Homo sapiens: one gene and its partners. The protein of the gene in region 4 purifies or fractionates together with the protein of the main gene of each other region. This does not show direct contact. Each region holds a gene or a part of one and is shown on either strand. Other genes may lie near its edges. The genes, in order: PATL1, SATB2, ADNP, QPRT, ACTR6, CRY1 and RAVER2.

Evidence for each region.
Region 1: the proteins of QPRT (region 4) and PATL1 purify together in Homo sapiens (affinity purification with mass spectrometry; 4 studies listed by BioGRID and IntAct, with this or other methods). This does not show direct contact.
Region 2: the proteins of QPRT (region 4) and SATB2 purify together in Homo sapiens (affinity purification with mass spectrometry; 3 studies listed by BioGRID and IntAct, with this or other methods). This does not show direct contact.
Region 3: the proteins of QPRT (region 4) and ADNP purify together in Homo sapiens (affinity purification with mass spectrometry; 3 studies listed by BioGRID and IntAct, with this or other methods). This does not show direct contact.
Region 5: the proteins of QPRT (region 4) and ACTR6 purify together in Homo sapiens (affinity purification with mass spectrometry; 3 studies listed by BioGRID and IntAct, with this or other methods). This does not show direct contact.
Region 6: the proteins of QPRT (region 4) and CRY1 purify together in Homo sapiens (affinity purification with mass spectrometry; 3 studies listed by BioGRID and IntAct, with this or other methods). This does not show direct contact.
Region 7: the proteins of QPRT (region 4) and RAVER2 purify together in Homo sapiens (affinity purification with mass spectrometry; 3 studies listed by BioGRID and IntAct, with this or other methods). This does not show direct contact.

What each region holds. Positions count from the first base shown.
Region 1 is NC_000011.10:59,666,103-59,670,694, forward strand, and holds the start of PATL1 (protein PAT1 homolog 1), read right to left. Parts: upstream 2,936-4,592; 5' UTR 2,794-2,935; coding exon 2,779-2,793; intron 863-2,778; coding exon 751-862; intron 1-750. UniProt on the Homo sapiens protein: RNA-binding protein involved in deadenylation-dependent decapping of mRNAs, leading to the degradation of mRNAs. Acts as a scaffold protein that connects deadenylation and decapping machinery.
Region 2 is NC_000002.12:199,454,879-199,459,763, forward strand, and holds the start of SATB2 (DNA-binding protein SATB2), read right to left. Parts: upstream 3,062-4,885; 5' UTR 2,461-3,061; intron 1,219-2,460; 5' UTR 1,160-1,218; coding exon 991-1,159; intron 1-990. UniProt on the Homo sapiens protein: Binds to DNA, at nuclear matrix- or scaffold-associated regions. Thought to recognize the sugar-phosphate structure of double-stranded DNA.
Region 3 is NC_000020.11:50,893,114-50,897,242, reverse strand, and holds part of ADNP (activity-dependent neuroprotector homeobox protein), read left to right. Parts: intron 1-2,730; coding exon 2,731-4,129.
Region 4 is NC_000016.10:29,685,190-29,689,318, reverse strand, and holds part of QPRT (nicotinate-nucleotide pyrophosphorylase [carboxylating]), read right to left. Parts: intron 1-4,129. UniProt on the Homo sapiens protein: Involved in the catabolism of quinolinic acid (QA).
Region 5 is NC_000012.12:100,214,000-100,218,128, reverse strand, and holds part of ACTR6 (actin-related protein 6), read right to left. Parts: intron 1-4,129. UniProt on the Homo sapiens protein: Required for formation and/or maintenance of proper nucleolar structure and function. Plays a dual role in the regulation of ribosomal DNA (rDNA) transcription.
Region 6 is NC_000012.12:106,995,770-106,999,898, forward strand, and holds part of CRY1 (cryptochrome-1), read right to left. Parts: intron 4,094-4,129; coding exon 3,782-4,093; intron 2,298-3,781; coding exon 2,146-2,297; intron 1,922-2,145; coding exon 1,719-1,921; intron 1,618-1,718; coding exon 1,525-1,617; intron 1-1,524.
Region 7 is NC_000001.11:64,803,811-64,807,939, reverse strand, and holds part of RAVER2 (ribonucleoprotein PTB-binding 2), read right to left. Parts: intron 3,207-4,129; coding exon 3,102-3,206; intron 2,950-3,101; coding exon 2,835-2,949; intron 735-2,834; coding exon 466-734; intron 1-465. UniProt on the Homo sapiens protein: May bind single-stranded nucleic acids.

The DNA of each region.
Region 1 (4,592 bases), on a different chromosome or scaffold from region 4:
CGGTGTGGTGGCGGGCACCTGTAATCCCGGCTACTCGGGAGCCTGAGGCAGGAGAACTGTTTGAACTCAGGAGGCGGAGGTTGCAGTGAGCCAAGATCGTGCCACTGCACTCCAGCCTGGGTGACAGAGCAAGACTTCATCTCGAAAAAGAATAAATAAATAAATAAATAATATGTATCTATACCCAGGGATGGACAAAATTTCATCTGTGCATACTTTTCTAACTTATGAGTCCTTTCTTGACCCCCAAAATTCTTGCTATAAAAAGCTTTATATTTTGAAGATACTATAAGTTGCAAAGTTATATACTAGTGATAGACTAAATTTTGAAACACATATACCCACATCCTAGAATCTGAATTTTCTACTAGTACACTAGTTTTCCATAAGTTATATGTTATACAAATAAAAATTCCTCTCATCTAGGATTAATTTAAATCTCTCTTAAATGTTTACTTCTCTAAACATTTGAATCCCTCATAGGGGCAACCTGTAGTCATCGATCATATAGCTGGAAGGGGCAAGGCTTACAGAATACCTGATTTTATAGGTAAGGCAAAAAGAGACCCAGAGGAGCAGGATAGGTGCTGTTTCCAGTGAAGAATGAACTATTCTAAGATGAGGAATAGAAGAATATCTTGCCAAGTTAGTGAATAAGGTTACCCCTAATAAGATAAAGCACTTCTAAAAGACAGCACTTGAAAAGAGCAGGAGGCTAAGATGATATTATAAGCGAAAGATGTCACTTACCAACTGCACCTGACCCAAATGTATCATCATTGAATTGATCAATCTCTTCATCTTCTTCTCCCAGTCCCTGAAATGCATCTTCATCTTCATCCAGAGGACAATCCTCCAAAGACTAAAAAAAAAGAAAAGACATTAGTTATTCATGAAATTCACACCCTCATTTTAAAAATGTTCTAAAAATGTTCATCTTACCTTCTCAATGAACATAATTGCTTCATTATGACTTTTTGTAAAGATGGCATTTTTTTTCTACTTCCCAATTTCCCTGACACTGGAAGATTTCATCATCTTTCTTTCACTTTCTATTTCCTAATCCTTATTTCATTTAATTCTTGCCCCACCTCACAGCATTCCATTTCTCTATTTTATCAAGAATCCACGAACAGCAGTTCCTCATGCAACCAAGAAATTAAGCCCACAACTTTCCTTACATCACTGGTTGGAATACTGATGACAATTAATAATGAACCCTTTATTTTCTTGTATCTTTATGTATCTTTTCCAGCAAAATTCTCATCTTTCTCATTATATTCATGTCATCTTTTCAACTATTATTCCGTTTTAAAGCTTTGTCTTCATTTTCCATCTTTCTTATCTTCCCTATAGGCCTAAACTCTAGTGATGAAACAGAAAATTAGGTCTTCAACCACAATAAAATGAACTCTGGAAAAGCTGTGGTATGACAAGTTCAAGTTCTGGCTCCATTCCTACAATCAGTGTGAACATGGGCAACTCAGAAAATTTCTAATTAATTCATCAAATACCTTTTAAGGACCTATTGCGTCTAAGGTTCTGTGCTAGGCTGTAAGGCTCAATGTCTTACATTGTAATGCAGGGACAATACCAACTATGGCAGAGAGTTGTGATGATCAAAGTGGGCAAAGATTACAGATTATCGAACAAAGGCTAGAGGCCACCACATCCTAGGTGTGTTCTATTTTCCCCCTTTACTTCAATCTTACTCAACTGATTTATTCTCCAAGTTTTCCTTTTGGTTTGGTCTTAGATCATTCCTATCAAGTATACCTGTCCTCAATTTTCAAAAATTCAGAATCAGAATTCCATATTCTATCAGTAGGTACGTTTGTGATACACCTTGCCTGGCTACCTCTTAGCTACCCTGTTTACAATGGAAAGATTAGGTCAAAGGGCGTTCTTCTTACCCCAGAGCCCTTCCAAACTCATGCCAATAGGCATGCCACTGCCTCCTTATCAGAGGCAACTTCCAGCAGTACTCCCTTCCAAATCACAAATATCTACTTTACCAAATCGCTGCTTTTTTAAATTAAAAATTCTTAAGGATCATTTACATCAGTTCTTTCATGCTACAAATTCAGAAAGTTTACGTCCAGAGATTAGGAGTCACTCAAGGTCACACAGTGAGTTGGTGACAGGGTCAGTACTGTCTGCTGCTATTGCTACATTCCCGGCACCTTCTCCAAACCCGCGTCTCCCAGCACTAGCCCAGAAGGAACTTCTGCAGGACACGCCCCCCTCCCAACTCGGAGCCCTCTTTAGTAAACGGGCTGGGGCCCTAATCCAACGGCAAGCCCAGGCCCCCTTCACCTGAAGGTAGCCTGTGTGAATGGGATGTGTGTCAGTGTAATTCGAGTGGAGGTGGGTGGGGGGTGGTTCCGGGTCCAGGGCGGGAAACGCGGCTCTGGGAATTCCCGGGTGACACCTACTTAAGAAAAGCACCCGGGGAGATGCAGTGCTCTACCCTCCGTGGCTCCTCTAGGGGTGGGGGCGGGGGTGTGGTCTGGTTACAGCACTTAACGGGCCCTCCCCACCCCAAAACGGAGGCCAACTTTCCCCAGCGGCAACTAATGGGACTGTCTCGACCCATGAAGCCAGCTCCCAGCCCTAGGATTAGACCCGCGACCCCAGACCAGTCGCGTCCAGCTAAGTCCTGCGACTCCCCCAGCCCGCCCCCTGCCCCGCAGGAACACAGGACCGGCGCGCGGAGAGAGAGTGAGGGAGAGGGGCGCGGGAGGGAGGGAGGGGTCACTTCCGGTCGCAACAGCTCACCTCGTAGCGGAACATTCTTGGGGAGGGGGGCAGGGAGCGGGGAGGGGAGAGGGGGAGGGAGGGAAGAAGCGCTGACTCCCCGGCTCCTCCGCGCGCGGGTCCTCCACCGGCTCGCGACCCCTGGCCGCCGCCGTACGCCGGAGCGTGCGTGGGGACGTGCGCAGGCGCGCCTCAGGCAGGGCGGCCACCCCGCTCGGCGCCCGGCGGCGGCGGCTGCGCAGGGACAGATTTGGCGTCCCGCTTCCTAGTCTCAGCGGCGGGAAGGAGGTCCCGTGGCGAGAGACTGCGCACGCGCTGCCCGTCTTCGGCTGCCTGGTGATCTGGGCTTGTAGCTCCGCCCCCTCTTTCTCCGCGCCCTCTAGGCGCTCGGCTTGGAGCTCAGGGGCCGGTCACGAGTTCTCCGTCACCCGTGGGGCGGAGAAAACCCTTGTGATTGTCACAGGATATAGCTTTGAAGAATCCTGCGCTTAGCCTGGGCTGGGAAAGATGAGATTCCCGGGCAGTTTTTCCAACGTCCGACTCACTCCTCAGGCTGCTCGGGGGTCTCCCCGTTGCAATCTGCGCCTTGCGCAGGGAAAAAAGAATGGAAAGTTGCTGGTCTTCGAAAGGGGCGGACTTCGTCGCCACTTTCAGCGGCTCGTCGCCTGCTGAATCCACAGCAGGTCAGGGCTGTGATTTATGTGGCTCAAAGTGATGACGGCGCCCGTTTTTTTTTTTTTTTTTTTTGAAATGCTGAAGACAGGTTCCGGGAGGTTTAACTAGGGTGGTATTTTTAAGCGCCAGGCTCATTAGGCGCGAGGAGCTGCAGAGCCTCGAAGGGCCGCACGGCCGTGGGCCGCTGGCCACGCAGCAGCAGGGTCTTCGGGCCGTGGTGCGCCGCTGGGTGACTCCACTTCCTTAGAGGATCGAACCCACAGAGGAATGTGTCCAGCTTAGAAGCTTCGGCCCCCTGGTTCCAGAATTCTGTTGGGTGGTTTGTTACCTCTAGCACGCTCCATGCCCTTCTTGCCCCTTTCCTTTCAGACAAAACTTGCAGCACAAAGAATGAATTCTTTTGGGTTTCGCAATCCGTTTCTTCCCTGGGCGTCTTAAAATGCAGCCTCGTCTCGGAATGGCATACAGTAAATCCCCTAAATGTTAGTGTGTCTGGATCAGTTTGAGTATCGGAAACGCTGAATTTGTGAAGAAAAGTTCTGGGTGGGAGCTTGTGCTTTGCCACTGGCTAGGAAACTTTGGGCAACTTACCTAAACCTCTCTGAGCCTTAGTTTCTTGTAAAATGGGTATAATTACACCTGCCTCATGATGGTAACACTACTAACGATTGAAGGCTGCCTGGGACTCTGCTAGGCGCTTTATAAAATGGATTATCTCATTGAATCCTTCCTTATGTGCCCCCCATGAGGTAGGTACTGTTATTTTCTCAGTTTACAGTTGAGGAACCTGAGGATTAGCGACATTGTTTGCCTCCAACCACCCAATGGCAAGTGGTAAAGCTAGCAGCTGAGATTTGTCTGATTATTAAAAACCGAGTGTCTTAATCACTGTGCCAGAATAACAAAAGCAAATGTTGACATGGGCCAGGCCTGAACTTTAAAGAAGTGGAGCGTCGGGACAAGATGATTTATTGGTTTTCAAGCATGCATGGAACATTATAAAACATCAAATACTAAGTAACAGGCCAGGCGCGGTGGCTCACGCCTGTAATCCCAGCACTTTGGGAGGCCGAGGTGGGCGGATCACAAGGTCAAGGAGATCTAGACCATCCTGGCTAACAGAGTGACACCCCGTCTCTACTAAAAATACAAAAAATTAG
Region 2 (4,885 bases), on a different chromosome or scaffold from region 4:
ATATCATTTAAGACAAGTTAATATATTGAATATTAAATGGGCTACTGTTGAAATTATTAGAGAAAAAACGTTAGAGGCAAAAAAAATTAAACTAGTGATTTATGCCAAACACACAGAAAACCTGCATGCCATGTGGAATTGTGGATTTTACATGTAAAAGACAACTAAGCAAATGGCATACAAACTCCAAAATATTTCAATGTTTAAATTTCTCCCATATCTTTATTTTGTATGATTGCTTTTCCTGACCACTTTAAAAGAAAGTAGTTGCTTAAGTAGTAAAAACTACAAAAGATTTTCTTTAAATAAAATTATTAATAAATTCTTTGGAGGGGAAACTACATCTAGTTGATAAGGCTACTTTGCTATTTTTATCTGTTCTCCTATAATTCATAATAAAGTTACGAATGCATATGACTAAACTTTATAGACAACAGCAGCATTTAAGCTTCTAAGGGCCTGATGGATTCATGGTGATTCTTTATTTCCCACATTTCACGTGGCAGGAAATATTCCCAGTTGTCATTCATCTGTCTTGAAGCACTGTCCTCACTACAAAGTAACATCAACTCTCCTTGTTCCTGTACTCGCCTGAGCATTAATGACTATTTTATTCCCTAAAAGCGAACGCACGTGAACTTCATCCCTACAACAGACACTCCGAGGCAAGGCAAAAGAGTTAAATCACTAAAAAGCTCTCTAGGAAAATCTAGAAACAGTTAGCTGGCTGTGACATAAACCTGCCAACACCTCAGCACACAGTGGCAAAATGCCCAAAAAATGCCACCCTCTGGGTAAAACCACTTTCTTGTTTTAACTGGAGATGAAGCTACCAGTTGCAGATGAGAGGCGACGGGGGCATTATTTGGCAACCTGGAATTCACTTCCTGTAATCCTACACCGCGACAGCGCCTAATCAACCTGAACCCTGACACCCGGGCCATTATCACTGGGCCGCGGGCTGCGCGCCTCCCTGCTCCGGGCTGTTACCTCCCACGGCCTTGGCCACGGCGCCGTTGGGCCTCCCGCGGGCTCCCATGGGGCTGCCGTTCTGCTCCAGCCGGGCCACCTTCACTGGGGGAGGCCCCTTGACGTCCGGGCTGCCGCTCCGCCGGTCGGGGCTGTCCCGCAGACACGGGCTCTCGCTCCGCCGCTCCATGCTGCTCCGACTCGGAGACAAAGTTCCCACCGGCAGGTCGCAATAAAACGCACAGGGACCTAGGGAGGGGGTGGGGGGAGGAAGGGGGAGGGAGAAAAAAGAGGGAAAACCGCTCATACACGTGATAGACGTTCAGGCCAGTGGCAGAGCGCTGCACCACAGCCACACAAACTTCCTCCCACGCTGCCCGAGGGGCCCGAGCCGGGAAGCCGGTCCCAACCTTACACTGGGCGGCCCCCAGGAAGCCCAGCGCCTCGGTTCGGCGACTCTGCCCAGTCGCAGCTCCCCAGAAGTCAGCCCTCGGGGTCGCGGCCGGGGTTGGCACCCAGGGGCGCCTAGAAGTGGTCCATTCATTGGGACGGGGTTGGCATAAACCGTTCCTGGGTGCTACAGCCTAGCCCGTCCCGGGGTCAGGGTTGCGGAATAAGTGAACTTCAGAAAAAGACGTTCCACCCACATGGGAAGGGAGTTGGGGGTGTGCGCAAGTCCATAACCGAATTAACCACCCGGTAAATGCGCTGTGAATGGCCAGGCAGGAGCCAAAGGCCGGGCGAAAGAACCCCTTGAATACCCGCTTTTTACCTATACGGAGCAAGTCCTGAGATAAGCACACACCTGCATAAAATCAACCCTAATTCCACATTAATAAGCATCCGAAAACACTTGGAGGTATTTATCAGAATAACCTCCATCACAAAGGCGGGCGCTACAATCGTTATTATTTTGGAGCGTTCTTATCTTCATCTGATCCCCAGTGCTTTTTTAAAGCTCTTCAATATAAAACACAAAAGCAAAAAGCATTTGAATTCTTAGTGCAAGAGCAGCCTTCATCCGCCCCAATTTTAACATCGCTCCAGAAAGTTTTCCTCTGGGTCACTAGGTTGGCAGTGCGCTCCCCACGGAAGCCGCAGGTCTCGACACCCCTGGATTGGGGGGGTGGGGGGGGGCGGGGAAGGAGGGGAAACACCTGATGAAACGGCGCTCGCGTTGTCACTGACACCCGCAAGAAGCAAGACCCCGGCACCGTACTGCGTGCGCGCTGGGAATCCTCGTGGGCGCTCTGGCCGCGCGAGCAGTGTCGGCGCCACGGGTCAAGGAGACAAGGTGGGGGTGGCAGGGGGAGGTGAAAGGAAGGATGCGAGATGAAGACACGGAGCAGGAGGGCTGAGGGCGAGGCTTCCGCCTGCATTCCCCGACTTCGCGGTCCGAGAGGCCGAGAGCGGCGGGGAGGGGACTTCGTTGGCCCTGGGCTTCCCCGAACTCCCGAGCGCGGCGCGGGAGCCCTCGCCCTGCGTACTTACTGCTCACGGTCTGTCTGAAACTTGGCTGACTGGGGCTCTGTCCATGGAGCAAAAGTAGAGAATCCAGGGTGGAAAGTTTCTGGTGCTTGGCTTTGCAGTGTTCTCCTAGTCTTCCTCTTTACTCCTTCCCCTTCCCTCTTCCCCAGGTCCTAATGTTTAAGGTCCTGGGTCAGGGTGTCTTCTTCTGGTGCGGAGATGGTTGTTATGATGATGATGGGGGGAGGGAGGAGGGGGAGGAGGAGGAGAGGGAAAGGACTCCTCCAAAGGGACACCCGAGCGAGCGGGGGAGGGGACGGCGGAGGAGGGGGGAAGAGAAGGAGGCTGAAAGAGCCTTTTCACACCTTCGGGAAGGAGACCCGTTCTGGAGAGAAAGGGCTGAGAACCCGGAGGCGGCGGCGGCGGCGGCGAGCCGGGGCTGCTGGTTCGCAGGGCGGCTAGCTCGCGAGGAGGCGCGGCCAGAGCGGTGGGACCGGTAACACCAAGAGCCGAGAAGACGCAGGGACCCGGGACCGCGCGCGGGAGGAAACGCGGCGGCCGCCCAAGCTGTCACCTCCAGCCTCTCCCCTCTCGGCCGCCTCTGCCAGCAGCCAGAGCCGGACTCACTGACAAGCCGCAGAGAGAGACACACTGAGAGGGAGATGATTATTAGTTGCGTTGAGTCATCAGGCAAAGTGAGTCCTTTTGGGTTGTCCTCGGTTTCCGATTTCTCCCCCTCCCCCTTTCGGTCCCCAGATCTAGCGCCTTCAAAATAATAATTTGGGGTGGGGGTAGGGGAAGTCTCTGGATTATTTCGGGATGGGGGTGGGGGGGATGGATCTAAACCCAAGCCAGACTGGTCCACCGCAAGAAAAGAGGGGAGTGGGGGGCGGGGAGGAGGGCTGGGGAGGTTGCGGGGGGAGGGGGGCCCCGCCTGGCAGGAAATTAAACATCAATCAATCAATCGCTGTGAGCACGGCGACCCAACGGCGGCGGGGCTGCGAAGGAGGCAGAGGGACAGGCGAGGGGCGGGTGGGAGGCAGGGAGGAGGGAAGAGGAAGGGGAGAGTCGGCGGTCGGAGCGGGGTGACGAGGACCTCATGCACGAGGCGGCGAAGGACCGATGGCAGAGAACCGAGTGCGGCGCGAGGCGGTGGCCGCGGCCAGCGGGTGGGTGCGTCTGGGCGCAGGCGGGCACCGGGGCCCAGGGTCTGGTCCTCCTCCTTGTGGCGGGTCCAGGGCGCGGCCGCCTCGCCCAGCCCCTAGGCGCACTCGTCCCGGCGCGGAGGCGGCGGCGACAAGGCAGTCGCTGGGTGCCGCGTCTGCCGGCGGAGACGCAGACCGACGCGCAAGAGGCGACCGCGGCTGCCTCGGCTCCCAGCTCTGTTAACTGCGCGGAGTACTTTCGACTTTGGAGATAGGAGGGCGATCGCCTCCCCCACCCACCGCCTCCGCCCACCACCCACCGCCTCCGCCCCTCCGAGCAACTTTTCCCGGTGCCTGCGAGCTCCCCCTCCGCGCCGAGCCGAACGTCCCGGCCCGCCGCGCTTCGTGCCGCCGCGCGCGCAGGGAAGGCCGCTTCTCCTTCAAAGCTGGCACGGCCGCGAGTCCGGAACAATAGTCGGGGTGTCCCGAATGCCAGGAGCACGGCCACTGCCCGCCGGGCTGTGGGTGGCACAGGAATGGGGGTTGCGTGGTGGATGCAGAGCGGGGTGCATCCCTGGATGGCATCGCTGGAGCGCTCGCCGCTCCGGCGACATCGCGAGCGGTGCAAACCGGGCCGCCTGGAGCCCGTGACGCGGTGGCGGCGAGGGCGGTGGGGCTGCCTGTCCTCGGGCTACAGGACTGGGGCTCCTGGGGACCCCAAGCTGCTCGAGCCCAGGGCTGCTGGCGCCAACAGAGCTGTGCCCTGAGGACCCGGCCTCCCCGCCCGGGGGGAGGCCGCACAGGAGCGTCCCCAGCAGGTCCCGCGAAGGCGTAACAGAGCCACAAACTTTTGCCGACTCCCGCGGCCGCGGCCGCCGGCAGCCCGACTCCGGCCGCGGTGCTCATTTAAGGTGGCGCGGGCACTAGCCGAGCAGGCTGGCCTCTGGCCGCGCTTTTGTCCCTGCGATTCCGCTTGGGCGCGCTGCCTCCTTAAGGAAAAGCACGTGGGCAGGGGCCGCAGCCCCCGCGAGATACCCGGGGCGTCGGCGGACATTAGCCGCTAGGACCTTAGGCGAGAAAATGTGGACGCATCCCCGCCGGCCCTGAGGCCAGAGAATCCCCCCTCAACTGGTTGCACCTCATGTCCCTCCCGCACACGTTGACTCTCCCTCCTAATCCCCAGGACCCCGAGGGCTCTCCCACATCTCCCGCAGCAAGAGCCACCGATCCCCCTTAAGAAGCGTTGACTGTACGGCGGCGCCAGAGGGCCAAACTAAGTTCGGTTTCGGGAAACGCTCTCGGGA
Region 3 (4,129 bases), on a different chromosome or scaffold from region 4:
GTGGCCGGGCTTGGTGGCTCACGCCTGTAATCCCAGCATTTTGGGAGGCCGAGGCTGGTGGATCATCTGAGGTCAGGAGTTCAAGACCAGCCTGGCCGACATGGTGAAACCCCGTCTCTACTAAAAATACAAAAAAATTAGCCGGGCGTGGTGGTGGGGCGCCTGTAATCCCAGCCACGAGGCTGAGGCAGGAGAATCGCTTGAACCCGGGAAGTGCAGGTTGCAGTGAGCCGAGATTGTGCCATTGCACTCCAGCTTGGGTGACAAGAGCAAAAAAACTGCATCTCAAACAACAACAAAAAAGTTTGAAAACATGGATCTCAATACCAAAAGGTTTTTATTAATAGAGAAGAATATTCATGGTTCATTATCTGCTTACAATCAAATCTATGATGAAAAAAGGAAACAAAGCACCGTGGGCTTATTCTTGGTAAGTGTGAGACCTCCTCAAGAAAAGCCTAAGGCAGGTCCTTCTGCAGTTATCCAGAAGAAGGCATTGTTACCATGGGAGATGGCAGTTCCATGTGTGTTACTGTTCCTGAAGACCCTCCAGTGGGACAAGATGTAAAGGTGGAAGATAGTGATACTGTTGATTCTGACTCTCTGTAGGCCTAGACTAACGTATGCGTTTGTGTCTTAGCTTTTAAGAAAAAAAATGTTTTTAAAGTTTTTGGTTTTTTTTTGAGACGGGGTCTTGCTCTTGTCGCCCAGGCTGGAGTGCAATGGCACGATCTCAGCTCACTGCAACCTCAGTCTCCTGAGTAGCTGGAATTAGAGGCGCCTGCCACCACGTCCGGTTAATTTTTTGTATTTTTAGTAGAGATGAGGTTTCACCATGTTGGCCAGGCTGGTGTCGAACTCCTGTCCTTGTGATCCACCTGCCTTGGCCTCCCAAAGTGCTGGGAAAGTTTTTTTTTAAAACAAATTTTTTTAAGCTTATAGAATAGGCATATGAAGATAGAAAATATTTTTGTACGGCTGTACAATGTGTTTGTTTTGGGGGTTTTTGTTTGTTTCTGAGACGGAGTCTCGCTGTGTTGCCCAGGCTAGAGTGCTGTGCTGTGATCTTGGCTCACTGCAACCTCTGCCTCCTGGATTCAAGTGATTCTCCTGCCTCAGCCTCCCGAGTAGCTGGGATTACAGGTGCCTGCCACCATGTGCAGCTATTTTTTTTATTTTCAGTAAAGGTAGGGTTTCACCATGTTGGTCAGGCTGGTCTCAAGCTCTTGACCTCAGGTGATCCACCCGCCTGGGCCTCCCAAAGTGCTGAGATTACAGGTGTGAGCCACTGTGCCTGGCCAATCTGTTTGTGTTTTAAGCTAAGTATTACTACAAAAGAGTCAAAAAGTTAAAAATTTAAAAGTGTATAAACCACAGCAAGCTGAGGTTATTATTGAAGAAAAAATATTTTTTAGGGCTCGGCACAGCGGCTTGCAATCCCAGCACTTTGGGAAGCCAAAGCGGGAGGATTGCTCGAGCCCAGGAGTTCAAGGCCAGCCTGGGCAACAGAGGGAGACCCTGTCTCTACAAAATTTACCCTAGTGTGGTGGCACACACCTGTAGTCCCCAGGACTGAGGCGGAGGTGGGAGGATCGCATGAGCCCAAGAGGTTGAGGCTGCAGTGAGCCGATTGTGCCACTGCACTCCAGCCTGAGCAACAAAGTGAGACTTTGTCTCAAAATTTTTTTTTTAGTAAAACTTGTGTAGCCTAAGTGTTCATAAAGTCTACAGTAGTGTACAGTAATGTCCCAGGCTTTCATATTGACTCACCCAGAGTAACTTCTAGTCCTGTAAGCTTTGTTCATGGTATCATTTATCTTTTACATTGTATTTTTACTGTACCTTTTCTGTGCTCAGCTATGTTTAAACATACAAATATTTACCATTGTGTTAATCATTGCCTATGGTAATCAGTACAGAAACATGCTGTACAGGTTTGTAGCCTAAGAGCAATAAGCTATGCCATGTAGCCTAGGCGTGTAGTAGGTTCTACCATCTAGGTCTGTGTGAATACACACTTGAGGATTTCACACCATGATACATTTTTCAGAATGCATCCCTGTGGTTTAGCAACACATGACTGTATAGTAAACCTGAAGTCTTTAGTAACTTCCTTCATTTAGGTTATTCTTGTTATTTCTAGCTGCAAAATGTTTATCTTCAAGTCATTTGTCTTTGGTTTAGCTAAAATGTGACTTTTTTTCCCTAAACATTGAGAAAGAACTTAGCATTTTTTTAATTTACACTGACAAAAATATTTGGTTTAAGATAGCTTTTTTTTTGAGTTTCTATTTTATAAAGTTACTATACAAAAGGGGAAAACATACTAAAATCAGTGCTTTTTTTTGAGACAGTTTCGCTCTTGTCGCCCAGGCTGGAGTGCAATGGCCGATCTCGGCTCGTTGCAACCTCCACCTCCCAGCTTCAGGCGATTCTCCTGCCTCACCCTCCTGAAGTAGCTGGGATTACAGGCGCCCACCACCACGCTCAGCTTATTTTTTTGTATTTTTAGTTGAGATGGGGTTTCACCATGTTGGCCAGGCTGCTCTTGAACTCCTGACCTTGGGTGATCCACCCACCTCAGCCTCCCAAAGTGCTGGGATTACAGGCGTGAGCCACCACGCGCGGCCTAAAATCAATGCATTATTAAGAATATCCGGGGGGGATCTGGAATCTGTTAACTGCCTATCTGAAGTGGCATTCTAATTCTAGTTTTTGTGTTTACTTTAGGACTATCGGACAAAACCTTTCTGCTGCAGCGCTTGTCCATTTTCCTCAAAATTCTTCTCTGCCTACAAAAGTCATTTCCGCAATGTCCATAGTGAAGACTTTGAAAATAGGATTCTCCTTAATTGCCCCTACTGTACCTTCAATGCAGACAAAAAGACTTTGGAAACACACATTAAAATATTTCATGCTCCGAACGCCAGCGCACCAAGTAGCAGCCTCAGCACTTTCAAAGATAAAAACAAAAATGATGGCCTTAAACCTAAGCAGGCTGACAGTGTAGAGCAAGCTGTTTATTACTGTAAGAAGTGCACTTACCGAGATCCTCTTTATGAAATAGTTAGGAAGCACATTTACAGGGAACATTTTCAGCATGTGGCAGCACCTTACATAGCAAAGGCAGGAGAAAAATCACTCAATGGGGCAGTCCCCTTAGGCTCGAATGCCCGAGAAGAGAGTAGTATTCACTGCAAGCGATGCCTTTTCATGCCAAAGTCCTATGAAGCTTTGGTACAGCATGTCATCGAAGACCATGAACGTATAGGCTATCAGGTCACTGCCATGATTGGGCACACAAATGTAGTGGTTCCCCGATCCAAACCCTTGATGCTAATTGCTCCCAAACCTCAAGACAAGAAGAGCATGGGACTCCCACCAAGGATCGGTTCCCTTGCTTCTGGAAATGTCCGGTCTTTACCATCACAGCAGATGGTGAATCGACTCTCAATACCAAAGCCTAACTTAAATTCTACAGGAGTCAACATGATGTCCAGTGTTCATCTGCAGCAGAACAACTATGGAGTCAAATCTGTAGGCCAGGGTTACAGTGTTGGTCAGTCAATGAGACTGGGTCTAGGTGGCAACGCACCAGTTTCCATTCCTCAACAATCTCAGTCTGTAAAGCAGTTACTTCCAAGTGGAAACGGAAGGTCTTATGGGCTTGGGTCAGAGCAGAGGTCCCAGGCACCAGCAAGATACTCCCTGCAGTCTGCTAATGCCTCTTCTCTCTCATCGGGCCAGTTAAAGTCTCCTTCCCTCTCTCAGTCACAGGCATCCAGAGTGTTAGGTCAGTCCAGTTCCAAACCTGCTGCAGCTGCCACAGGCCCTCCCCCAGGTAACACTTCCTCAACTCAAAAGTGGAAAATATGTACAATCTGTAATGAGCTTTTTCCTGAAAATGTCTATAGTGTGCACTTCGAAAAAGAACATAAAGCTGAGAAAGTCCCAGCAGTAGCCAACTACATTATGAAAATACACAATTTTACTAGCAAATGCCTCTACTGTAATCGCTATTTACCCACAGATACTCTGCTCAACCATATGTTAATTCATGGTCTGTCTTGTCCATATTGCCGTTCAACTTTCAATGATGTGGAAAAGATGGCCGCACACATGCGGATGG
Region 4 (4,129 bases):
GTTCAAGACCAGCCTGTCCAACATGGCAAAACCTCATCTCTACTAAAAACACAAAAATTAACCAGCTGTGGTGGCAGGCGCCTGTAATCCCAGCTACTTGGGAGGCTGAGGCAGGAGAATCTCTTGAACCCAGGAGGCAGAGGTTGCAATGAGCTGAGATTGCGCCATTGCAATCCATCCTGGGTGACAGAGTGCAATTCGGTCTCAAAAAAAAAGTTAAATTTAAAAACAAACAAAAGGCTGGGCGCGGTGGCTCACGCCTGTAATCCCAGCACTTTGGGAGGCTGAGGCAGGCGAATCACCTGAGATCAGGAGTTTGAGACCAGCCTGACCAATATTATGAAACCCCGTCTCTCCTAAAAATACAAAAATTAGCCGGGCATGGTGGTGTGCGCCTGTAGTCCCAGCTACTCGGGAGGCTGAGGCAGGAGAATCGCTTGAACCCAGGAGGCAGAGGTTGCAGTGAGTCAATATCGCGCCATTGCACTCCAGCCTGGCCAACAAGAGCGAAACTCAGTCTCAAAAAAAAAAAAAAAGAGAATAAAAACAAACAAAAAATTAGCCTGAGGTCAGGAGTTCAAGACCAGCCTGTCCAACATGGCAAAACCCTGTCCCTACTAAAAACACAAAACTTAGCTGGGTGTGGTGGCATGTGCCTGTAATCCCAGCTCCTCGGGAGGCTGAGGCACGAGAATTGCTTGAACCTAGGAGGCAGAGTTTGCAGTGAGCCGAGATAGCACCACTGTACTCCAGCCTGGGCGACAGAGTGAGACTCTGTCTTAAATAAATTAATAAACAAACAAATAAATAAAGTAACTTTGATGGGCTCACTCAGAGGTTCTGTCTATAGCCAAACCTCACTCAGGTTCCCTCAGCTCTTTTCCAGTTAGGCCTTGGACTTCCGTGTTCACCTCTGCATCGTCCAATTTTAGCAAGAATACTGCTAAGTCAGCTTAGCCAGTCCCTCATCCTCCACATCTGATTGCCCCCGATCCCTGATGGGGGTCCTCATTCTCCACTCTCCCCCAGGCGCTGTCTGACCACCTTGGCCTGCCCTCAGCAAGAATCCCTTTAGGTTGGTCTTGTCAGAATACCCCCAACCCCCAGTGCTTTCTCATGGTAATGTCCCATCCACTGCCCCCAACTCTGCTCGTTGGCTATAACCCCCATGGTGTAGAGTTCAGCCCAGTTCTGATCTAAGGTCACTCTTCCCCTACAGCAATAGTCTGGAATGCAATATGTTTTTGCTATTTTAACGACTGTCTAGTTCTGGTTTTCTTTGATCACTCTCCTGCTGAAAACTGACCTTTCATGGTTTCAGCTCCAGTTCTCTTGACTTTTTTCTTTCTTTCTTTTTGAGACAGAGTGGAATGCAGTGGTGCAATCATGGCTCACTGCAGCCTTGAACTCCCGGGCTCATGTGGTCCTCTCACCTCAGCCTCCTGAGTAGCTGCTCCACCATGCCAAGGTAATTTTTTTTTTTTTTAATAGAGACAGGGTCTCAAACTCCTGGCTTTTAAACATTTTTTTCTTTTTCTTTTTTCTGAGACAGTCTCACTTTGTTGCCCAGGCTGGAGTGCAGTGGCATGCAATGGAAAAGGGATGGACCCCCGAGCTTTGGCAATAAAAGTAGACTCACTGCAGCCTCTGCCTCCTGAGTTCTCCTGCCTCAGCCTCCTGAGTAGCTGGGATTACAGGCATGTGCCACCATGCCTGGCCAATTTTTGTATTTTAGTACATTTCTGTATTTTATAACAGCACGAGGAGGTCATTATTGTCATCCCTGTCACAGATTAGGAACCCAAGGCCCCTGAGGGTTGTCTCCAGTCCACAATCACTTAGTGACAAGTGGCAGAGCCAGGGCTGGACCTCAGGTGTGCGGCCCCAGAGCCTGGGCTCTGATTCACTGTGCTACGCAACCTCTCTGATGGGATAAGTATCCTAGCTCACATACTATGAAGCTAACCAATATAAAATTGCCAATATTTGGCCGTTTTGACCAATAAAAGCAGCACATTTATATGGTTCAGTATACGAAGCACTTGGATATAGCAGAAAACTCAATGGCCAGACACAGTCTTTGCCCATCGAGAGGAAACAGCCGTAGACTGTGATGATGGGGGAAGAACAGGAAGCACAGAGGGACCAGGATCTAACCTCCGGGCGTGTCTGTGAGGCCCCTGCTGAGGAAGTGATGTTTAAGGGAAGACCTGCAAGAGGAACAAGAGCTGAAGGGGGAGATTGGGGATGAGGATAAGGGAAGGGGCTTCCAGGCCAAGGCACAGTCCTGCAACAGCATAGGCTAAAGCCTGACAAGTAAGAGAAAGAGCTGCCCACGCTGTTGCCTCCATGCCTAGCAATTATTAACACCCCACACAGTGCAGGTGCTCAATGAGGATGTGTCAGAGAATCAGTGAAAAATGGAAAGAAGTTGCCAGGTGTGGAGGCTCATGTCTGTTAATCCCAGCACTCTGGGAAGCCAGGGTGGGAGGAAGACAAGGCCAGGAGTTGGAGGCTGGGCACAGTGGCTCACGCCTATAATCCCAGAACTTTGGGAGGCCGAGGCAAGTGGACCACTTGAAGTCAGGAGTTCAAGACCAGCCTGGCCAAGATGGTGAAACCCCGTCTCTACTAAAAATACAAAAAATAAAAAAAATTAAAAAAATAAAAAGCCGAGCGCCTGTAATCCCAGCTACTCGGGAGGCTGAGGCAGAGAATTGCTTGAACTTGGGAGGCGGAGGTTGCAGTGAGCCAAGATTGTGCCACCGCACTCCAGCCTGGGCGACAGAGCAAGACTGCGTCTCAAAAACAAAAAACAAAAGACTTTATGTTTGAAAGCCCTTAGGAACACTGTCTAGCACAGGGTAGGCGTGCTCGCGAAGAAAAGAAGCGTTTCTCAAGTGTGGTGGACTCATGGAATAAATGACTAGGTGTCTCTGAGGACCGGTGAGTGATGTTTGCCAGGCAGAGGTGTGGGGTGGGGCTGACATTTGGGGCTGAGAAAACTGATCTGTTCACCTGCAGACAGTGTCGGGGTGGGGGCAGTGTGGGATTCACAGGTGACATGGTGGGAGGAGAGGCCACAGGGAGAAAGAACTAAACTATTTAGCTGAGGAATTTGGCCAGATCGCAGAAGCCATCATAAAATTTCATTTTATTGGCCGGACACAGTGGCTCACACCTGTAATTCCAGCACTTTGGGAGGCCGAGGTGGGCCGATCACCTGAGGTCAGGAGTTCGAGTCCAGCCTGACCAACATGGTGAAACCCCGTCTCTACTAAAAATACAAAATTAGCCGGGCATGGTGGCACATGCCTGTAATCCCAACTACTCAGGAGGCTGAGGCAGGAGAATCGGTTGAACCCGGGAGGTGGAGGTTGCCGTGAGCTGAGATCCCACCATTGTATTCCAGCCTAGGCAACAAGAGCGAAACTCCATCTCAAAAAAAATTTTCTTTTCATTTTATTTTATTATTTTTAAGTAGAGACGGGGGGTCTCGCTATGTTGCCCAGGCTGGTCTTGAACTCCTGGGCTCAAGCAGTCCTCCCACCTCGGCCTCCCAAAGTGCTGGGATTACAAGTGTGATCCACCATGCCTGACCCATCACAGAATTTTAAAAGAGGGAGTGATATGATTATGGTTTTGCTCCAGAAGGGTCACTTCAGCCACCAACTGGAGACAGATTGGGAGGCAAAAGAAGGCTGAGGTAGTCTTGGCCAGACAAAAAGTAGGCTGGGCGCGGTGGCTGTCACCTGTAATCCCAGTGCTATGGGAGGCCAAGGCAGGAGGGCCACTTGAGGCCTGGGCAACATAGTGGGACCCTGCCTCCACAAATAATTTTTTTTTGTTTGAGACGGAGTCTCACTGTCGCCTGGGCTGGAGTGCAATGGTGTGATCTCAACTCACTGCAACCTCTGCCTCCCGGGTTCAAGTGGTTCTCCCGCCTCAGCCTCCCGAGTAGCTGGGATTACAGGCATGCAGCATCATCCCTGGCTAATTTTTGTATTTTTGTAGAGATGGGGTTTCACCATGTTGGTCAGGCTGGTTCTTGAACTCTTGACCTCAGGTGATCCACCTGCCTCGGCCTTCCAAAGTGCTGGGATTACAGGTGTGAGCCACTGCGCCCGGC
Region 5 (4,129 bases), on a different chromosome or scaffold from region 4:
CTGGCTCACACCTGTAATCCCAGCACTTTGGGAGGTCAAGGCGGATGGATCACTTGAGCCCGGGAGTTCAAGACAGCCTGGGAAACATAGCGAGACCCCCGTCTCTTAAAAAACAAAACAAAAATTAAAATACAAAGAAAAAAAGGAGGAGAGACAAGAGAGAACTTCATAATATACCTATAATGGTACAATGATTCTAGTTTCTAGGGAACAAAGAACACATTCTAAATAAAAAACATTTACTATGTCTTGTGTTTCTAGTACTGTCTACTTTCACTCCCCTAATTTAGGTGTTTACTGGATATGTGGCTCTATTCTATTAGGATTCCCCCTTTCCCTTCTGGAAAGAGCCTACATCTCTACATTTCTTTAATATGTATTCAATCTCTATTCAAAATTAGTTTCCAAATGATGTAAGCAAGTCCATGGTCCTTATCCTTGAACTTACCTTATAATGCTAACTTTATATGAGGCCTATGTATAACAAACTTTAAACAACCATGACTCATATTTTCTTGTTATTTATTTTCTGCTAACCCACCCAATCTGTGAGCTGTAGTGCTGAGGGGGCTGCAAAAATAATCTCCTTCCACAATATTCTAAATCATTAAAATAATGGTCCCTCTCAATTTTACAACCATCAGCTTTCCTAGATTCAGGTAAAGACATTCATTTCATTTGACTTATAAATGCAGTTGTCCTCCCATAAAAGGATAGGTCCCTTAATATAATCAGCCATCTACTCTCTATTCAGATTTCAGCTTCCTGAGAGGTTTTCTCTGCTTCCCAAATAAAAAGATCCTTCACTATTCTCTATCACCCTATATTATCCTTCATAGCTTATATTGTTCACCATCACATATCCACTAACTATCATAAAAAAGTACCTGGCACACAGTAGATACTCCATGAATTCTTGAATAATAGTAAGCAAGACAGCAACATGTCATTCATTAAACATATTACATACATTATCCCACTGAACTCTCATATAACCCTGTAACACGGGCATATTTTCCTTTTAAATTAATGATGCAATTGGGCTCTGCAAGGCTACATTACTTGTTCAAGGTCATTCATATCATAATCCAAAGCACATACAAAATATTCCTTCCATGATACTACCACTCATAACCTGGATATAAATGGTTAGATTTTGATCATTTGGGAATTCCATGCTCAAAACATTATTCTAAAATAAAAAATATCCTGAAAATTATACAGTATTCACAAATACTCCAGGAAGAACAGAAAACTATAAATCACTTTTAACCCAGAAAACTATAAATCACTTTTAACCCAAAATATTGTTATATAGTAACAAAGAGAAGAATATTATGCCTCATAGAAGTATTCTTCCTTCTCAAGCAGAATGGAAAATATTTTCTATGAATTTACAAATTCATTAAATTCCAGCCATTCACTGACTTGAGTTTAAGGGATATAACTCATTTTATCAACATTCAAAATAACCTGAGATAGTTGCAGACTTAGGAATTTCAGTTGACAAAACATTAGAGGTTATCTAGTTTATAGCCCTGATTGACAGAAGAGGATCATGTGACTTATTCTAGATTAAATGACTAACTAGGGGAGAGAGCCAGAACTAGACATCCTTGTTAAATGTTAGCACTAAAGCCATTAACCATTAACAAGTAATCTGGAGGCTGGGCACACTGGCTCACGCCTATAACCCAGCACTTTGGAGGCCAAAGCGGGAGGATCACTTGGGCCCAGGAGTTGAGGCTAGCCTGGGCAACATAGATGAGCGTGGTACCTCGTCTCTACAAATAACTTTTTAAAAACTTAGTCAGGCTTGGTGGTGACCATCTGTGGTCCCAGCTACTTGGGAGGCTAAGGTGGGAGGATCACTTGAGCCTGAGAGGTCAAAGCTGCAGTGAGCTGTGATCACACCGCTGTGCTCCAGCCTGGGCTATAGAACGAGACTCCGTCTCAAACCAAACAAAAAGTTAGTTCCAGTACAATTAAAGAAATGATCAGTGTATGTTATACTGGCTCTGCAGAAAGTGGTAATCCATGATGAGGACGATTTTCTCAATTTAGGTCAGTCGAATTCATTATACATTAGTAGGCTTCCTCTTTCTGATAAGAAAGAAAACTGGAATTTCTATTGGTTGTTATCTGTAATGATATTACAGGCCTATTTTTATTGCTATTGTTACTACCATTAGTGCTAGAAAATCAAGTATGTAACTTCCCCCAGCTACTTAAAAATATTCTTGAAACTATCAAAATTCAAGTGTTAACAAAACCCTAGGAATAAAGGCTCTCAAATAAATATTTATTTTAATCAAGTATTAAAATCAAAACAATATAAAAAATTCCAATATATAAAATACAACTGTTTCTAAATCTTTAAAAAATTATTAAGATGATTTAACACAGACTCTGAATAAGGTGTACATTTTAACGAAATTGACAAAGATTAAACCATTCTTTCTACAATAAACATTTGCGGTAACACTGTATCATCTGCCAAAAGCCCAGTTCCAACTGACTTTGTCCACTCATCTGCTATTAAAATACACATTATATATGAGAATCAGCAACAGAGTGTATCCTGAGTAAATGAAGCCCACACAGTCCATAACCAGATTGTGTTCACAAGGTCAAAAGCCAATAAAAAACCTTATATGGCTTCTGCCTTTTCTAAAGATGAGTAAAGTAATGGTCAACTGGGAGAATAACCACACCTCTACTGGCTTATTGCATAAGGTACTCACTTGAGAAAACACGGCTTATGATTTGGCAAGGAAGAAACTGGCAGAGTTTAGAAGAAAATGTCCAATAAACAAATAGGTTGTAATTTGCAGGGAAGGAGAGTTTTTCTAAAAAGAAAGATTTCCTAGTTGACTATCCAATCATCTGGAAGAGGTTTTAAGTTTTCAAACTTATGAAACAGGCAATTCTAGGAAGAGGAACTGAGAACACGGATACAGGTTTTGTTTTGTTTTCAAGTGCCCCAAGAGATTCCAATGATCAGTCAGATTTGAGGAGACTGGAAATCACTGAGACTTTACTCAGATCCATCTCTGTAGAAATCAGGATTACTTTACCCCTATTAACCCTATAGAGTACCATAAAATTTCCACAAGGTATCAGCTATAAAATATGACAATAATCAAATGTGCCTAGTAAGAAAGAGGTTTGGTATTTAAATGTTTGGGGCAGTTTTTCTTGTCTTGTGAAGAAGAAAAAAAATACACCTTCCGTATCTTAGCCAGGACTTGGGCTTCCAGTTTCTCTCTACCTGATACATGCCCAGGCAACCTTATCCCATCATCTATCTCAATTCCCATTTCTGAAAGCCAGCCTAGGTCCTTTCATAAGGATCTGTTTCACTTTTTGTTTTTTGTTTCTTTTGTTTTTAAAGAGACAGGATCTGGCTCTGTTGCCCAGCTCTGGAGTGCAGTGAAATGATCATAGTTCACTGTAACCTCAAATTCATGGGCACAAGCAATCCTCCCAACTCGGCCTCCTGAGTAGCTAGAACTACAGGTGTGTGACACCATGCCCAGCTAATTTTAATTTTTTTTTTTTTTTTTGTAGAGACAGGGTCTCACTTTGTTGCTGAGGCTGGTCTCAAACAATCCTCCCACTTCAGCCTCCCAAAATGCTGGGATTATAGGTAGGTGTGTGCCACCACACACAGCCATAAGGATCTGTTTCTAAGAACATAAAAGGATGATTTCAGTTTTATAAGGCCCCAAGTAGTCTCTGAACTCTGATTCATACTTCACCTCAATAATCTGGCCCAAAAAAATTCACTTTTGTTTTCAGGCATACTAAGTATAAATAATTATATAAAACCCATGTATTCACCAACCAGCTTAATGTAACTTTACAGATAAGCTGACACTCCCCTAATTTGGTATTTTATCATTCACATACATAGTTTTTTATACTTTTACTTCATATTTAAGTATACCTTAATAACATATTATTATTCTCACCAAAAAGAGAACATAATTATTCTGCATAGACTAAAAGTGTACATAGCTTTCTAAAATGTGCTTTTCTGTGAAAATCAGATTTCTGAGATTTGTCCATGCTGTTTATATAAGCTCTACTTGATTTCTCTACTGCTTATTATTTTACTATACGAACA
Region 6 (4,129 bases), on a different chromosome or scaffold from region 4:
CCAGCATGCATTAGCTATTCTTCCTAATGCTCTCCCTGCCCCTGCCCCCCCAACAGACCCCAGCATGTGTGTTTTGTTGTTTTTTGTTTTTGAGATGGAGTTTTGCTCTTGTTATCCAGGCTGGAGTGCAATGGCGCGATCTCAGCTCACCACAACCTCTGCCTCCTGGGTTCAAGTGATTCTCCTGCCTCAGCCTCCCAAGTAGCTGGGATTACAGGCATGCGCTACCACGCCCGGCCAATTTTGTCTTTTTAGTAGAGACGGGGGTTTCTCCATGTTGGTCAGGGGCTGGTCTCAAACTCCCAACCTCAGGTGATCCACCCACCTCGGCCTCCCAAAGTGCTGGGATTACAAGTGTGAGCTACTGCACCTGGCCCCAGTATGTGTTGTTCTCCGCATGTATCCATGTGTTCTCATCATTCTACTTCCACTTACAAGCAAGAACATGAGGTGTTTGGTTTTCTGTTCCTGCCTTAGTTTGCTGAGGATAATGGCTACAAGCTCCATCATGTCCCTGCAAAGAACATGATCTCGTTCCTTTTTATGGCTGCATAGTATTTCATGGTACATATGTACCACATTTTCTTTATCTAGTCTATCATCGACTGGCATTTAGGTTGATTCCACGTCTTTGCTAATGTGAATAGTGCTGCAATGAACATACGTGTGCATGTATCTTTATAACAGAATGATTTATATTCCTTTGGGTATATACCCAGTAATGGGATTGCTCAGTCAAATGGTATTCCTGCTTCTAGATCTTTGAGGAATCACCACACTCTCTTCCACAATGGTTGAACTAATTTACAATCCCATCAACAATGTAAAAGCCTTCCTTTTTCTCTGCATCCTCACCAGCATCTGTTGTTTCTTGACTTTTTAATAATCACCATTCTCACTGATGCTGTCCTATTTTTTAATCAAATTACTGAGCTTCATGCTATTTTTGGTCAAAGCCAAAAACTAATATGATGGTTCAAATTTCTAACACATACTGAGTTCCTGAAATTATTAATATCACACATAAGAATTTACATGGTCACTAAATTTGTATCATACAGAAAACTACTACAGACCAGACTTTATAAGAAAAACTTATGTGCAAAAAGACTAGAGGGCTCTATGCATGTGTACAATAAATCTTTTGGCCATGTTCACAGGGCCACTGACTTTCTTAACTAATTACCTTATAGTTGCCATACACCTAAGGAGTAAAAAATAATAAGCATTCTGAAAATATGACATTTGAGTTTCATTTTATCCTTAAAATTGCTCTCCTCAGTTTGCAAGAGCTTTAACTTGACCCAGTATCTATTATACGTAATGATATTTTCCATCTCTAAAATGTCATCAATGGAGTGAAGAGATGTGTCTGGGTGCACATGTATGCATGCATACAAAGAATCTATTAAGCTAATTTCAAAGACAGATTTTTATAAAATATGTTAGTGAGGATCAATAACAAATATATTTGTTTAATAACCTCTTCATGTTACTAAGTGCAGAAATTTCCTTTTCACTTACTTCCACTGCTGCTACAACCTGGGATATTTTCTGCAGAATATCCCATGAAGCCTCCATTCCCATTAGGATTAGAAGGTACTGATGCCAGAAGACCTAAAGGACAAAAAAATTTTCTTTTAAATTATGATCAAGATAAAATTCAAAGATAAGTACATAAACAGCTGCCAAAGAAACAAAGACAGTTCTTAACATACCTAGTCCTCTATATCGTGAAAGCTGCTGATAGATCTGTTTCATCCTTTCGATATTCAAACGGCTTGCCTCAGCATGGTTCACCATTGGTTTAGGATAATTAACTCCTATCAAACATTTGGCTACCTTTTGGATACCTTCTGGTGCATTCCAGGGATCATAGATATATTTTGCAGGGAAGCCTCTTAGGACAGGCAAATAACGCCTTTGGGAGAAAAAAGAAAGATTACTAATAAAATGCACTCTAAGCAAACTATAACTACTAGCTATGACAGACCAAAATCAAATCAAGACCATTTAAATGATCTGTTTACCCTTCTCATCTCTGCTGCCCATCATGAGTGGGGAATACTTTAAGCATTGATTAAACATGAAAAGCTCTTCTTGAATTAACTATTCCAAACTGAGTAGTAATCACCCTTGATTTACCTGATATAGTCTCCATTGGGATCTGTTCTCCTACCAAAACCAACAGGGCAATAGCAGTGAAAAAACTGTTGAAAAAAGGAACTACAAGACAGCCACATCCAACTTCCAGCATTTATGCTCCAATCTGCATCAAGCAATAATTCTTCAAATACCTTCAGAAGTAACAGTAACCAATTAGTTTGCACACACATAATTCGCAAAGCAAGCATTTTCAAGGTCACAGTAGAGCCAAAGTCAAGGCAAAGAAAATCTAGCACAGAATTGTAAAATTAAACATTCCAAAGTTAGCTTCCCTATGTTCTGTTCTATAATGAGCTCTTCCAGAGAAAGAAACATAGTGGTAATATAGTATGCTTCTGAAGAGAATTTACTTTTCCAACCTCTGCAGTGTTACTGGGAGAATGGAAGGTAAAAAAAATATTCAAATCACTGATTTAAAAGGATGTGGATTTAAAAGGATATTATTAGTAGACACAGGAAAAGCAGTCAACCACTTTCAAGAAAGCAAAAATGCTATTACATAAAACACCAACAAAAACTTAGCTTCATATTCTAGCCTAAATAAAGGAAGCATACTCAAATATAAATTCACTTAAAAATATATACTAGCATTACATAGTTTAATTTCGAATTCCTTGATCAGAAAGAAAATAGAATTAAAATAAATGATTTTTATATATATTCATTAAGTATGTTATATATTGTCTTTGTATACAACGGTGTACTAGGAAATATAAGAGATTAAACACACACACACACACACACACACACACACACAAGCTCAGAAATGGTCCTTGGATGGGGCAAATGTATGGTATTGCCAGAAAGGTAAAAAATGTACGTAATGGCCGGGCACGGTGGCTCATGCGTGTAATCCCAGCACTTTGGGAGGCTGAGGCAGGGGGATCATTTGAGGTCAGGAGTTCAAGACCAGCCTGGGCAATATGGTAAAACCCTCTCTCTACTAAAAATGCAAAATTAGCTGGGCACAGTGGTGGGCACCTGTAATCCCAGCTACTCGGGAGGTTGAGGCAGGAGAATCACTTGAACCTGGAAGGCGTAGGTTGCAGTGAGCTGAGATCACGTCATTGCACCCCGGCCTGGGCTACAGAGTGAGAGACTCCGTCTCAAAAAAAAAAAAAAAAAAAAAGTACCTAAGTCTTATTACGTGTAATCCACAAGATGTCGTCACAAAATGTAGTATGCTTCTCTTTACATAATAGAAGTATTACTAAAAAGCTGAGAAGTGAGGTGAAATGATTTATATTTTAAAATTTATAATATGAATTCACTATCTCTAGGAACTCTTTAGTGAATTCTTTTCGTGATAGAAATATCACCTATAAATATATCTATCAACAAATTCAGTGTTAAATTTTACAGTTCTCTTAGTGGCTAGGCTGGTTTAACCATTAAAATGACTTTAGGTTAATCAATTTAACCAGTTTTCACCTTTTTGCTTGTCTGATTATACCATTTTTCTCTGAAAGTGTCCCCGTATTTGGGGAATTAAATGTTTTATCCACTGAAAAACTACACCATAAATGAATCTATAAACAGACAACTTCTAGGATTTGTTTTATTAAGGTAAGGATTCCTTCAAAATAAGGCATGCTATATCAGTTAGAACACTTACCTTCATTCCTTCTTCCCAACTAATCCACAGGTCCCCTCGTGTCAGGAAGCAAGCAACTGCATGCCTGGCTAGATGATGAATCCAACCCTCCTGACGAAGCTGTGTCATGATGGCATCAATCCATGGAAAGCCTGTCCGGCCTTCCGCCCATTTGGCTAAAGCCTCAGGATTTTTATCCCAAGGAATCTGAACACAGATAGGGTTTCCTTCCATTTTATCAAAGCGTGGATTATTTGTTGCTGCTGTATAGAAAAATTCACGCCATAACAGTTGCCCATAAAGGGAAAGGGGAGGGGAACTGTTCTTCTTTACCTATGGTTAAAAAGCAAAGAAGTATTATCAGAATTT
Region 7 (4,129 bases), on a different chromosome or scaffold from region 4:
ATAAGCATTGATACTCCTAAGCTTTTTCAAACTACAAAATTCTGAACTTAAACTAGTTTATATCTTATATTTAAAATAGCAAGTATTTTTGAAAACCATGTATATCACAAACTTTTTGGAAATTCCTTATTCTCTTATAAGGAATAAAGAATCCACATTTAAATTATTTATAAGAGACGTAACTCATTTTACACAAATTAAAATTACTTTACTTACAAACTGGCAAATAATTAAGATAGTCCCAAATGCCAGCTAGCATAACTTATCAAAAAATGGATTTTTTGTTTGCTTTATTTATAACAGATTTTTTAAAAGAATGCAATGTTTTCTTCAATTTTGAAAAGTAAATGTAAACTATGAAAAAGTCATCATTTCATTGACACGACAATTTAAGACATAATTTAAAAGGAATATATATACATATACATGTATATATACATCTGTGTGCACCCACAGTTTTCTTACCCCTGAACTTATCTCTGTGCCTTTTGGCTGGCTTTGCTGCTGCTTATGGTGTCCCACCAGCAAGCTTCCAGCAGCAAGGTTTGGAAAGCTCTGAAGATAAGGCTGCGACCCTGAGAAATTTCCTTCTGCCATTCCCACCGTGGCTGGCTGTTTCTCCTGAGTATTACTGTGCCCTGGCCCAGCCTGTCCAGCAATGTGCTGATTTGGAAAGAATGGTAACATGCCCATTCCAGCTGTTATCGTTGTTTGAGTTGGAATCAGGCTAGATGCTGTAGCAAACCATAAATGCAAAAAGCTTTTAGTTAGAAAATATTTATTCACAATAGTCCTTTTAATTTTGTTAAGTTATGAGCAAAATGCAGAGAAACCAATTTTGTACCTGTTAGATAACAGCAAAAGGTAAGGTTAGAGGTTGTTAATTAGTGGGTTCCTTTATGAAAAAAACAAAAACCTACAATAGTAATAATGCTCTTATTTTCAGCAACTTTCAGGGTAACCTCAATGATAAGGAATTTTTAAGTTTTTAAATTCTATATATAATTGTTAATTATATATTGTTAAAGTTGAGGGCAAAGTTTATGTACTTTTTGGCATTTAAGCTGTATTAGTGCTTTTTTTTATGCCCAGTCATTGCAACTTGACTGTTTCCATAACTGAAGGAAATAATTAAGTTTTAAGTTTAAAAAGTTATCTGAAATTAAAATTTAATGAAGTTTGATTGACTCCAATAATAAATTTGGTTAGCTGGCTTCCATCAGCTCATGAGAGCTATTAATACACATCTCTTCCCAGCTATCAAGTTAAGTGTCTTCATATTGGTAACTTGAAATCAGTCACAGCTGGAGTATTCACAAACAGAAATGCACAAATGCTACAAATCAAGCCCTTTTTTTCAACCTAGAGAGCTGGTTGTTAAACACTTATCAGCATATCACTGGTTTCTTTTTTTAAATCAGTATTTGTTAATAGATAAGCACTAAATACATGAAAGTTTTATGTTTTTATTTACAGAAAATAACAAGAAATTCTGGAAGAAATAAAAGGGTTTTTTTGTTTGTTTTTTGAGTCAGGGTCTCATTCCCATCGCCAAGGCTGGAGTGCAGTGGCACAATCATGGCTCACTGCAGCCTCGACTTCCTGGGCTTAGGTGATTCTCCCACCCCAGCCTCCTGAGTAGCTGGGACCACAGGCGTGTGCCAGCATGCCTGGCTAATTTTTTGCATTTTAGTAAAGTCAGGGTTTTGTCATGTTGCCCAGGCTGGCAAATAAAAGTTTTAATAGGAAAATTCTGAACCGTTCCACTTTTTAAAAAATCTATAGGTCAAAATTAAATGGAAAAAGCTAATTTTGACAACTAAGTCAGATTTACCATTTTATAAATTTACTAAACAAATTTCTTCAATTATTTTTAGTAATAATCATTTAGAGATGGATACTTTGGTTCCCCTAACGTTTAGAATATAGTTATTTGGACACTGACTTTTCAGTGTTCTTAAAGCGGCATATACTAAAGCAAATAATTTATTAGTTAATCCAACACAAATAATACATATTTGCATAAGCTTTTAGACATAAAAAATTTAATTTTTTGGAAATACAGACCCCATGATATCACAAAATTTCTTCACTGGCTTAACTTTTGTCCAGTCAATTTCAACAGTCAGAACTAAGTTATTTGATCACTGGACAAAAGGTTAAGTAAGCTACGCATATTTAATTGACTTTTTTTTAAATTATTGGTGGCCCTTCTGTTTTTACTCAGCATGCTCACTTCTAAGCAAATTTCAATTAAGCTTCAAGCTGAAAATGCCCTTCAAAATCACATTCAAATAAGAAGTCTTAGTATAACACCATGCTTCTGTTTTCCTGCCAAAAAAGCTATTTTGTTTGCCATGTTTTTAGAAGCACATAGTACACACATTAGTTTTGACTACTGATTTAGAGGTTAAATTTTTTTAAATAATACAAATAAATAATCAAACTTTAAATTTATAAATACTAGATTTTAAAAAATAAAAGTGAATGGTTTCTTATCCCAGCAATAATTACATGGATCCATATGTGCTGTCAGCCCAGTGGGCAGCATGTCAGTCTCAAATGGATCTGTGTCTTTACCTTGTACTGCTGTGAACCTGCATAAAATATTAAAGCATATCCAATAGGGGAAGTCTTATCTTGGCATGGAAGCAAGTCCATCAGTAACTTACCAATATTGAAAATCGAAAAGCCAAGAGGGTTCTCAAAATTTTAAATGACTAAATAAAACTCAAATTTGACCTCCCTGTAAATAAAATTAGAACATAGGTAAACTATCTTTAAATCTCAAACCTGACTGTTTACTGACTTCTCAGTAAATACACATCATTTACTTTTATGTGCTTCTCCATGATGATGTCCCAACTCCTTTTTCAATGGAAGCACTGACCCTATCCCTAGTGCAGTCTGAAGTACCACAGCTGGGGGCTCTCCAAGTAAGCCGGGTTTCTACAAAAGAAGAAAAAAAGGTAAGACCCATGGCCATAAGATATAACCTAAAAAAAGCTACACACGTGAAAATTCATAAACAACCTGATCCACAGCCTGATTCTAGAAAAGAAATGAACTGATTTTAAAAGAAAAAATGATACCATACTTACATTATTAGTATGAATATTCTCAAACTTCATTAATTGTTGTTGTGCCAGTGGTATATGAGAAAGATTCTGAAGGAATAAATTAGAAGTATTACCCATAACTGAGCTCTGTGAAAATGACAAAACGTTGTCAGTTTAATTTTGAAAAGCTACATGTTGTATAACCCAATTCATTTTGAAGTTCAATTCTCCAGTCGATCTGAGTAAAAGTAACTGCTTCTAAACATATTTCACTCTCCAACTTATCAGACAAAGCTAATTAATTATTTTAATAATACACAAGAGGGGGCCATGCAGTCATGAAATAATTCTACATTATTTCATCCTTCGTTCCCTCCTCTCAACCCTTTTTGGTTTCAATGACAGTGACATTCTATTCATTCATTTATTTATTCATTTAATCATTCAACAAAGGTTTATTGAGCACTTTCTATGTTCTAGGCACTGTGCTACTTAGTGAGAAGTACAATAAGATCTGCCCTCATAGATCTTACAATCCCCTAAGGAAGGGAGCCATTAATTAATAAAAAAAACACAGGATTACACATGGTAATCACATGAAGGAAAAATACAGGGGGCTATAAGAACAAATAGTGGAGGAATGCTATTTAGCCTGGAAGATTCAAGGAAGGTTTCTTGGAGGAACTAATTATTGTACTGCAATCTGAAGGCTGTAGTTGAAGTCTGGGAGGGAATTAGGTGATGTTGGGGTGGGAAGCGTTCCAGGAAGAAGGACCAGCAGGAGAAAAGACCAAAGGAGGAAAAAACAAGGTCCTTTGAGGACCAAAACCAGGCTGTTGTAGTGGGACAGCGATCTGCAGTGAGTTGAGAGGCAGGAGGGGCCAGCTCAAATGTATGGGCCTTAAAGGTAATGCATTTTGGTGTTTCTCTTAAAACACAGGGAATATTATCAATACTCTGAACTTCCCCTCTCATATTACTCTCCACTCCTTATTGTAATTAACTGTTTAATGTGTTTTCCCTACTGGTTGAAATTCTATAATAACATAGACTTTAAATGTTACATTCCA